Linked DNA regions of Homo sapiens: region 1 is linked to region 2. The links come from fine-mapping of genetic effects on gene expression. A gene starts in region 2. The other region holds a variant in brackets. All regions are shown on one strand. Distances are between the middles of the regions. Region 1 has its middle 20 kb from the start of C6orf141. Region 2 holds the start of C6orf141 (chromosome 6 open reading frame 141).

The links.
Region 1: its variant is fine-mapped to the expression of C6orf141 in tibial nerve (GTEx, PIP above 0.99). The same link has a PIP of 0.9 or more in skeletal muscle.

What each region holds. Positions count from the first base shown.
Region 1 is chr6:49,568,280-49,572,671 of GRCh38, reverse strand. It overlaps the pseudogene CYP2AC1P. Among named protein-coding and RNA genes, the nearest start is that of C6orf141, 20 kb to the right of the region's middle. RefSeq lists a silencer at 1,742-2,036. The variant C/T (reference allele first, on the strand shown) is at 1,887.
Region 2 is chr6:49,548,161-49,552,552 of GRCh38, reverse strand. C6orf141 (chromosome 6 open reading frame 141) reads right to left here and starts at 1,885. Exons shown (of 1, transcript NM_001145652.2): 1 at 458-1,885. The coding sequence starts at 1,760. The coding sequence ends at 1,026. RefSeq lists enhancers at 565-1,084, 1,101-1,170 and a silencer at 1,841-1,900.

The DNA.
Region 1 (4,392 bases), 20 kb before region 2:
TGCATTTGTAGTCTCAGCTACTCAAGAGATTGAAGAAAGAGGATTGTTTGAGCTCAGGAGTTTGAGGCTACAATGAGCCATGATTGCACCACTACCCTCCAGCCTGAGTGACAGAGCAAGACCCTGTCAAGGAAGGAAGGAAGGGAGGAAGGAAGGGAGGAAGGAAGGAAGGAAGGAAGGAAGGAAGGAAGGAAGGAGAAGGAAGATATAGGGGGTCTCACTTATTTGCTACAGAGACTCAGCCACAATCATCTCTTTTTTTATTTGTTTTTTTGTTAGTTTTGTTTTGTTTTTGAGATGGAGCCTCACTCTGTTGCCCAGGCTGGAGTACAGTGGCAGGATCTCGGCTCACTACAACCTCTGCCTCCCAGTCAAGCGATTCTCCTGCCTCAGACTCCCAAATAGCTGGGATTACAGGTGCATACCACCACGCTTGGCTATTTTTTGTATTTTTAGTAGATATGGGGTTTCACTATGTTGGCCAGGCTGGTCTCAAACTCTTGACCTCAGGTGATCTACCCGCCTCGGCTTTCCGAAGGGCTGGGATTACAGGTGTGAGCCACCATTCCTGGCCTCAATCATCTTTTTTGTGAAATGGAAACAACTAGCACAGTTGCTATGAGGAGGAGAAAGTCTGCACAATATCAGGATACAAATAATCACTCATAGATAAATAGACAGATAGTTTTTTATTTTTTATTTTTTTTAAACATAGGGTCACACTATGTTGCCCCAGGCTAGCCTTGGAACTTCTGGACTTGAGCGATCCTCATGCCTTAGCTTCATGAGTAGCTGGGACTACTGGTGTGCACCATCACACCCAGCCTAAAGTTTTAAAACAGAACATTTTAAAGCAGTTGTTTGCTTTTTGTAATTTGAAAAACTATACAGATTCATGTTGTAAAACAGCTAATCACCAAGATAGTATTACAAAGCCTTCTTAAAGAGGCCACTGTAGGGCCAGGCATGGCAGCTCATACCTGTAATACCAGCACTTTGGGAGGCCGAGGTGGGTGGATCACTTGAGGCCAGGGGTTCGAGACCAGCGTGGCCAACGTGGTGAACCCCATCTCTTTATGGTATTAAAAATACCGAAAAAAAAAAAAGTAGCTGAGTGTGGTGGTGCACACCTGTATTCCCAACTACTTAGAAGGCTGAGGCATGAGGATCACTCGAACATGGGAGGCAGAGCTTGCAGTGAGCTGAGATCGTGCCACTGCATTCCAGCCTGGGCAACAGAGTTAGGCTCTGTCTCAAAATAAATAAATAAATAAATAAAATTTAAAAAGAGGCAACTGTAATGAACCAAAATGAAGTAGAGAATATTGTTCTTAATTTGGTGGAGAGATTTTGTTTTTTATCATTATTTTATTTTATTTATTTTAGTTCTCAGAATATCCTTTCCCACATCACAATTAAAATTACTTTCTCTTTTGTAGAAAGTTGTTTCCCAGTATGCAGCAAGCTCTGGAAGCAGGGAAACTTGTTTTTGAGAATGTTTGGAATGGGCTTGTTTGATTTAATATCCACTATCATAGTCACTGGAGATAAAAGCCAACCTTCATAGAGCCCCCAAACCTTCCAGGAACTGTGCCAGTTTCTTTCACATGTATCCTTTCCTCTAAGGCTCAGTCTCAGATGAAGACTATTTAACTCTCATTATACAAATATAGAAAGTGGGGTTTATCAAAAGTTAAATGACATGCTGTTATCACATAGCCACTAGATGGCTAAGTAAGAATTTGTTCCCAGTTCTGAGTCCAAGGCTTGAGTTTTTTAGTAAGCACATGAATAAACATGTGGTTAGGAAAGCGAATACTCCACACTAAGCCTCAAGTCCACCTGCCACTGTTCGGCTTCCCCTTCTTCCATTTCCTTCCAGAACA[C/T]CCTGCTTCTGAGTAATTGCCAACCAAGATCATGATATGTCTTTAGAGAGTGACCTTTTTAGGAAGAAATTTAATCTCTGTTACTAATACGAACATTTGTATTTCTAGGGCACTGAGGTTATCATCTTGCTGGCTTCAGTAGCTCGAGATCAAGCACAGTGGGAAAAACCAGACACTTTTAATCCTGAGCATTTCCTCAACTCTAAGGAAAAGTTTATCAAGAGAGAAGCGTTCCTGCCCTTTCAGTGGGTAATGTATCTTACTTGAGAAAGGCGGTTTGAAAAATCTGGAGAGACTTAAGACTGTGCTAAGGTTTCGTACTTTTCCATATAGCACTAAACTTCAGAACTGGTTCTAAATTGGCTCTGGGACACTAGGCACTAAAGCAACATTTTCTAAGGGAATCTTTGAAGACTCCTTGTGGCTGAGGCTAGGGTAGAACCTCAGGAGTTTGAGGAGAAAGTTAAGCAACAGAAAGACAGTTGGCAGCAACTTTACCCCAACCAAAAAAGTTCTGCCTTAATAATATGTGTAAATAGAAGATTTTGTTGTTGTTGTTTTGTTTTGTTTTTAGGATTTCTTTGGGGAAGGTAGGTGGGAGGAAAGAGCTTTCCGCTAGTGTTAATTTTGAAATTCAGAGAACGAAATGAATTTGTTCCATAAATGTCTGAAGCCTACGAACTTGAAATAAATTCTCTGTTCCTAGCAGAGTCACAGCAAAGCTGCACCACAAGCAGTTTGTGATTTTTGGCCTTTCTGCTTATACAAACAATGGCTTAACATTCACTCCAGATATCCACTCAGTGATGGATAAACAGCAGCCACCCAAGAATAGTCTTTCTTCACCTACTGGTAACTAAGTAATAAAAGATACACAGTATAATTCAGTCTCCTGATTTTTACACACACACACACACACACACACACACACACACACACACACAAGAGGATACATGAGAAAATATTACCTGGATTAATGACTTTCAAGTAAAAAATGTAATATCACACCTGGAACAAGAATTTTAAAAAATGAAAAACAATCTGCATATAATTTGCAGTGTTATAAACTCGATGTCTCTCAACATTTCAAAACAACATTTTGTTTTTTCTAAAAAACAAAAGAAAAAGAGCCTAGAAACATAAACAATGGTCTCTGGAGTGCACGTTAACAACATCTGACACTGAGCCATCATTTTGTAAGAGAAGACATGGAGCAATAATTTTTTCATGCATAAAGTTTTTTTTTTTTTTCAGACTCTTTTCCAGACTCTTGGACTTACTGCTGTTAGTATTTGGAGGGAAGGAATTATGTTTTTCTTAACACTCCCTTTTCACTATGAACAATTCTTTTACTTTGTCTCTTGAGCTCTAATCAATATTGTATATAAGCTCTTCCTGGTTTCTTACACAACTGGACCTGGAGGCTTCTTTGTACTAAGAGACAAGTAGCAATAGTCCAGATTTTCAGAGTGGCTTATTCTCAAAGGATTTTGCTGTTTACTTCAGGAATTCTAAACTTCCCTAGTTATACTTGACCTTTTTTTTTTCTGTTTTAATCCAGAAAATCCAGTAATAATACTATTTTTATTTTAGGCAAAAATGCATACATATTCCTTTTTTTTTTTTTTTTTTTTGACAGGGTCTTCTCTGTTGCCTAGGCTGGAGTGCAGTGGCATGATCACAGTTCACTGCAGCCTCGACCTCCTAGGCTCAAGCGATCCTCCCAGTTCAGCCTCCCAAGTAGCTTGGATTACAGGTTCATGGCACCATGCCCAGTTAATTTTTGTATTTTTAGTAGAGAAAGGGTTACACCATGTTGCCCAGGCTGGTCTCAAACTCCTGGGCTCAGGTGATCTACCCACATTGGCCTTCCAAAGTGCTGGGATTACAGATGTGAGCCACCACACCCAGCTGGAAATATTCTTAAAATACAATCATCGTTAAACTGTTACAGTGAGAAAAATTAATATTATAAAACTAATTTTGTGTTTCAATCATGAGTGCCACAATCTCTTCAAATCTTCATATTCCTCTAGTGTTTAAGGCACTCTTTTCTTCAATTATTTCCTTAACATTTATTACTTACTGCATTCAGATAGAAATTTTGCGAGGCAGACGGATCACCTGAGATCAGGAGTTCGAGACCAGCTTAGCCAACATGGTGAAACCCTGTCTCTACCAAAAATACAAAAATTAGCCGGGTATGGTGGTGGGCATCTGTAATCCCAGCTACTCGGGAGGCTGAGGCCGGAGAATCACTTGAACCTGGGAGGCAGAGATTGCAGTGAGCCAAGACTGTGCCTTTACACTCCAGCCTGGGTGACAAGAGCAGAACTGCATTTCAAAAAAAAAGGTAATTAATTAAAAAAATAAATGAGATCATCCTACTGTCTTCCCTTACTCTCAAGAATAAACAATAATAATATGTAATTTATCTTATTGGATAGCTAGACTCCTGCCATAAAACTGAATAATGCCTAAACATAGGGTACATAATATATACCTT
Region 2 (4,392 bases):
CAGTAAATACTCCTTCAGGTGGTAAAGTCAAGCAGTTCACCTGGAGAGGGCTGCTTTGCTCCTCACAGAGCTTCAACCAGGCCAACTACTAAAGAGTTAATTCACATAGTATTTAATAATAAAGAGGAACAAACAAAATAAGAAAAATTAGTTGTTTCAGTATTACCAGAGGAGATTTTTTTGAACTACACAAGGAGAATGGTATCTTCAATCTATTCTTGACTACAAGTCTCATTAATGAAGAACTATGGAAAAGAATAAGACATGCATTCATTTTATGGCAAACTACATATTGCTATCTACCTTTAGTTCAGAACATTTACATGCAGTATTTTTAATATTAAAATTAAAATGTATGATAAATGCATGTTTACAGGACTAAATTAGCTATTGTTTGCAGTAAAGCCTTTGTAAATGGAATTTCACGTTGAAATCTTAGTCTTCTGTCCCCAACTCCTTCTTTCCCTAGCTCCTCTCGTTTTCTTTCTAACACTGAAATGTGGGGGAGAAAAATGAAAAGTGCACATCAGAAGAGAGTCACTTGCTGCTTTGGTTTTACTTTCCCATTTCTTTTTACTTTCTGTTTTTGGCTTTTAAAACAAGCCTCTTCTCCACCCACTCCCACCCTCTTTGCAGAGAGCAGACTTCAAACTTCACTTCTGTTTCTAGGTCCTAAAGAGAAACAAGAGGGGGGCGGGGAACAGAAAAGAGATCAATTGAGAGTTATTCCAAAATGCAAATTAACAACAGGTTTTCTCATTTCAAAACTCCCACATTCTGCCAATCTGAAAATATCTTTTCTCCACCTCTTCTGAATGACTTAGGTCCCCAGACAGCGAAGGAATTCAAGCCACAAAGGAGGTATTATGCTGCTTACAGTTCTTAATCTGCCTCCCCGAAGCGCTGCACCAGCCTCTCAAAAGGTTCCTTCTGTAGGTTAATTGCAGGTTGGAGCTCCCAGAATAGCATTTTCTTTTAAGGATGATCGCTCATCCACCATCCCGGAACATTTCTCGAGCTACTCATTAGAGTTTAATTTCCTCGAGCCAAGTCCCTGGAGACGGTGAAACCCTCCTCCCCGCGGCGTGGACGCGGGATGCCCCTGTTCGTGCCTGGAGAGCCCGGGATTCAGCAGGGCCCCAGCGTTCCCCAGGCTGTCCCTCTCTACTGCTGCGAAAAGTGAGCGCGGTCACGAAGTGCTCCTCAGTCCTCGTGGTCATGCGACCCTTGGCCCAGGAGGTCTGCAACACTTCTTGTGTTACCTGATAATCCTCCACCCGCACAAGCACGTATTTGGGTGGGTCTGCTGCGTCCCGCGGCGGGGCTACACGCCTGCCAGAAATTCGCTTTTGTCGTTGAAAGACAGAAGGGTAGTTGGGCTCCTCGCCGTGGTCCTCTCCACCCGCATGAGGAAGGTCCTCTGCACCGGCCACCTCTTCCCGTGCAGGGTCCCCTCGAGTCCCTAACCACCTCTCTGGGTGCAGGAGAAAGAGCACTTTCTCTCTGACCCAGGACTCACGGTCCAATTCCTCCCCGGCCCGAGGTCCGAGGGCCCGATCTGCCGTTCTGTCCTCGTGGCCGCCGCCCTGGCTTCGGCTCGCCCCTGCCGTCGCGGGATTCCGGGCGCCCGGAGCTAGCGGAGCCCCGCGCCCTACCTCCCGCGGAAAAGGCCCGAGGTCCCCCAGGCTGCGGGAGGAGTCCATGGGATTCGCAGCTCCCTGAGGCCCCCGGGTCTCCATCCTGGCAAAAGGGTCATTCATTCGTTCCTTCTTTGACCGGTTCAAGCAGCAAGCGCCTGCTGAGCTCCGGAAAGCGCGGGACCACCAAGCCCTGGGTGTGGCCTCTGCTGCAGCTCCGGACTCCCAGCCGGTGAAAGCTGAAGACTAGATCAGCCCCAGGCTAACCGCGTGCGGAACCCGCCTCTTCACCCTCCGCCTCTCCCACCTGGCGGCTGTCTAGCCATTCAGAAGAAGCTTGACACAAGCCCCAGTCACTCCTCTTCTTCCTCCTACCCCTGTCCGGAGCCCTGCTCCCTTTGTCATTCGCTGATTCAGTCCCCTCTTACTTTTCACCTCTATCCTAGTTTCCCACCCACCTTTCGTTTTTCTCCGGAGCTGAGGCGCAAAGGACACCCTCGCACTGCGCCCCCACTGAAATGCCCCGAAGTATGTTTGCTTTCCAAGGACGCTCCTTGAGGTGAAGGAACAAAGAAGTTTGTGTGCATTTTAATTAGCTGATCTAATTCTGAAAAGGGTTTTTGTCCATTCCGAATCCACTCCCACCATGCTGCCAAAATAATGGAATGTAGATCAAATGGTCAGACTGAAAAGCTGAAGCCTTGGAGAAACTGGTTTTGGTTTCTTTGTCCTTCTTCCTTTAGAATGCCAGAATCTGTAGCTCTGGAGGACAATGGTCACACCTGTGTCCTCCTCCTCCTCTTCCTCCTCCTTCTTTTTTCCCGCTCTCTTTCTCTCTCCCTCTCCCCGCTCCCCCTTCCTCTTACCCCACCCCCCCACATTAGATATGGTCTCGCTCTGTAGCTCAGGATAGAGTGCAGTGGCGCAGCCTCGACTTTCCAGGCTCCCACCTCAGCCCGTCAAGTAGCCGGGACTACAGGCGCGCACCCCCATGCCCGGCTTTTATTTATTTATTTATTTATTTATTTATTTATTTATTTATTTATATTTTTCTAAGAGATGGTAGGGGTGGGGCTCTCCTATATTGCCCAGGCTGGTCTGGAACTCCTGGGCTTACGAGATACCCAGGATCCCCCACCCTACCCACACACCCACCTGGGCCTCCCAAAATTCTGGGATTACAGGCTTGAGCCACGGCCCTGGCCAGTCTTCATTTTGTGTGTAATCAACGCTTGTCTCAGGAAGGTGTAGTCTTTGATTTAAAACAAGCTATAAAACAGAAGCAAAACAAACATCCAAATGAATTTTTTCAGGACTTAAAATTGTTTGTGTTTGTGTCGTTTATAAAATTCCCTCTGCACCCACCCGTCCTCTTTAACCACAGGGGTTAAAAAAAGTTAAGTGTCTCTGGCGAGGCTTTTAGAATTTACCCATAGGCAGGCCCGCTGACCACTACTCTTTGCCTAAGGTTAACCGGGGAGGCTAGGTCATAGAAAAAGAGCTCAGTTTGTGGTTTCCAGTTCATCCTTAGCTGTTTGTTTTATTAAAAAACCCACTGATGGCTGGGTGTGGTGGTTCACACCTGTAGCCCCATCATTTTGGAAGTCTGAGGCCGGTGGATCACTTGATGCCAGGAGTTTGAGACCAGCCTGGTCAGCATGGTGAAACCCAGTCTCTACAAAAAGTACAAAAATTAGTCAGGCATGGTGGTACACACATGTAAGTAATCCCAGCTACTTGGGATGCTGAGGCACCAAATCGCTTGAACGGGAGAGGGGGAGGTTGCAGTGAGCCAAGATCATACCACTGCTCTCTAGTGTGGGTGTTAGAGCAAGAATCTGTCAAAAAAAAAAAGAAAAAGAAAAAAAAAGAAAGGAAAGAAAGAGAAATCTAAATCCTGCCTGATTTAGAAAAATGAGTGCAATGGTGAAAAATTCTGCCCATATGTAAAAAACAAAGTAGTATAGTGAGATATTTGGAAAGGGAGGACTTTTGATATCTGCCAAATCATATAAAGAAATAAAGTGATAGAGGAGGAGTGAGAAAATCTGGGTCAGACCTGGGTGATTAGAAGCCTGACCTTAGTGGGCACAGCGGCGCCTACTGGTAATCCCAGCTGCTTGGGAGATTGAGGTGGGAGGGTGTCTTGAGCCTAGGAGTTGGAATCTGGCCTGCACCATATGGTGAGACCTCTGTCTCTTCAACAACAAAAACAACCAAAAAATATACATGCCTGACCTTGGGCTGGTTTCTCCTCAATCACAATGAGCTCAAATTTTTGAGTGTCTTAGCCAAGAATTGTTCTAAGCACTCTATATATTTAAACACATTTATTCTTCACAATAAACTGTGAAAGTAGTAGTATTTCTTTGGTCTCCTTGAAATCTTTGAAGCACAAAGAGGTTAAGTGTGTGCCCAAGGTCAAACACCAATAAACAGTGGAGCCAAGATTCTAACTTATTTAAATGCTTGCTCCAAAATGACTTCTAAATTACCTTCATATTTTAAGCCTGTGACTTCATGTTCTTTTCTATTCATTTACATAACCACTAATTACTAACTATATGCTACTCTTCTAGGTGATAGAGACATCTGGAGGAACAAACCAAATTGCTTATCCTCTTAAAGATTTTATTTATTTATTTATTTACTTATTTATTTGAGACAGAGTTTCACTCTTGTTGCCCAGGCTGGAGTACAATGGCACCATCTCAGCTCACTGCAACCTCCACCTCCAAGGTTCAAGCAATTCTCC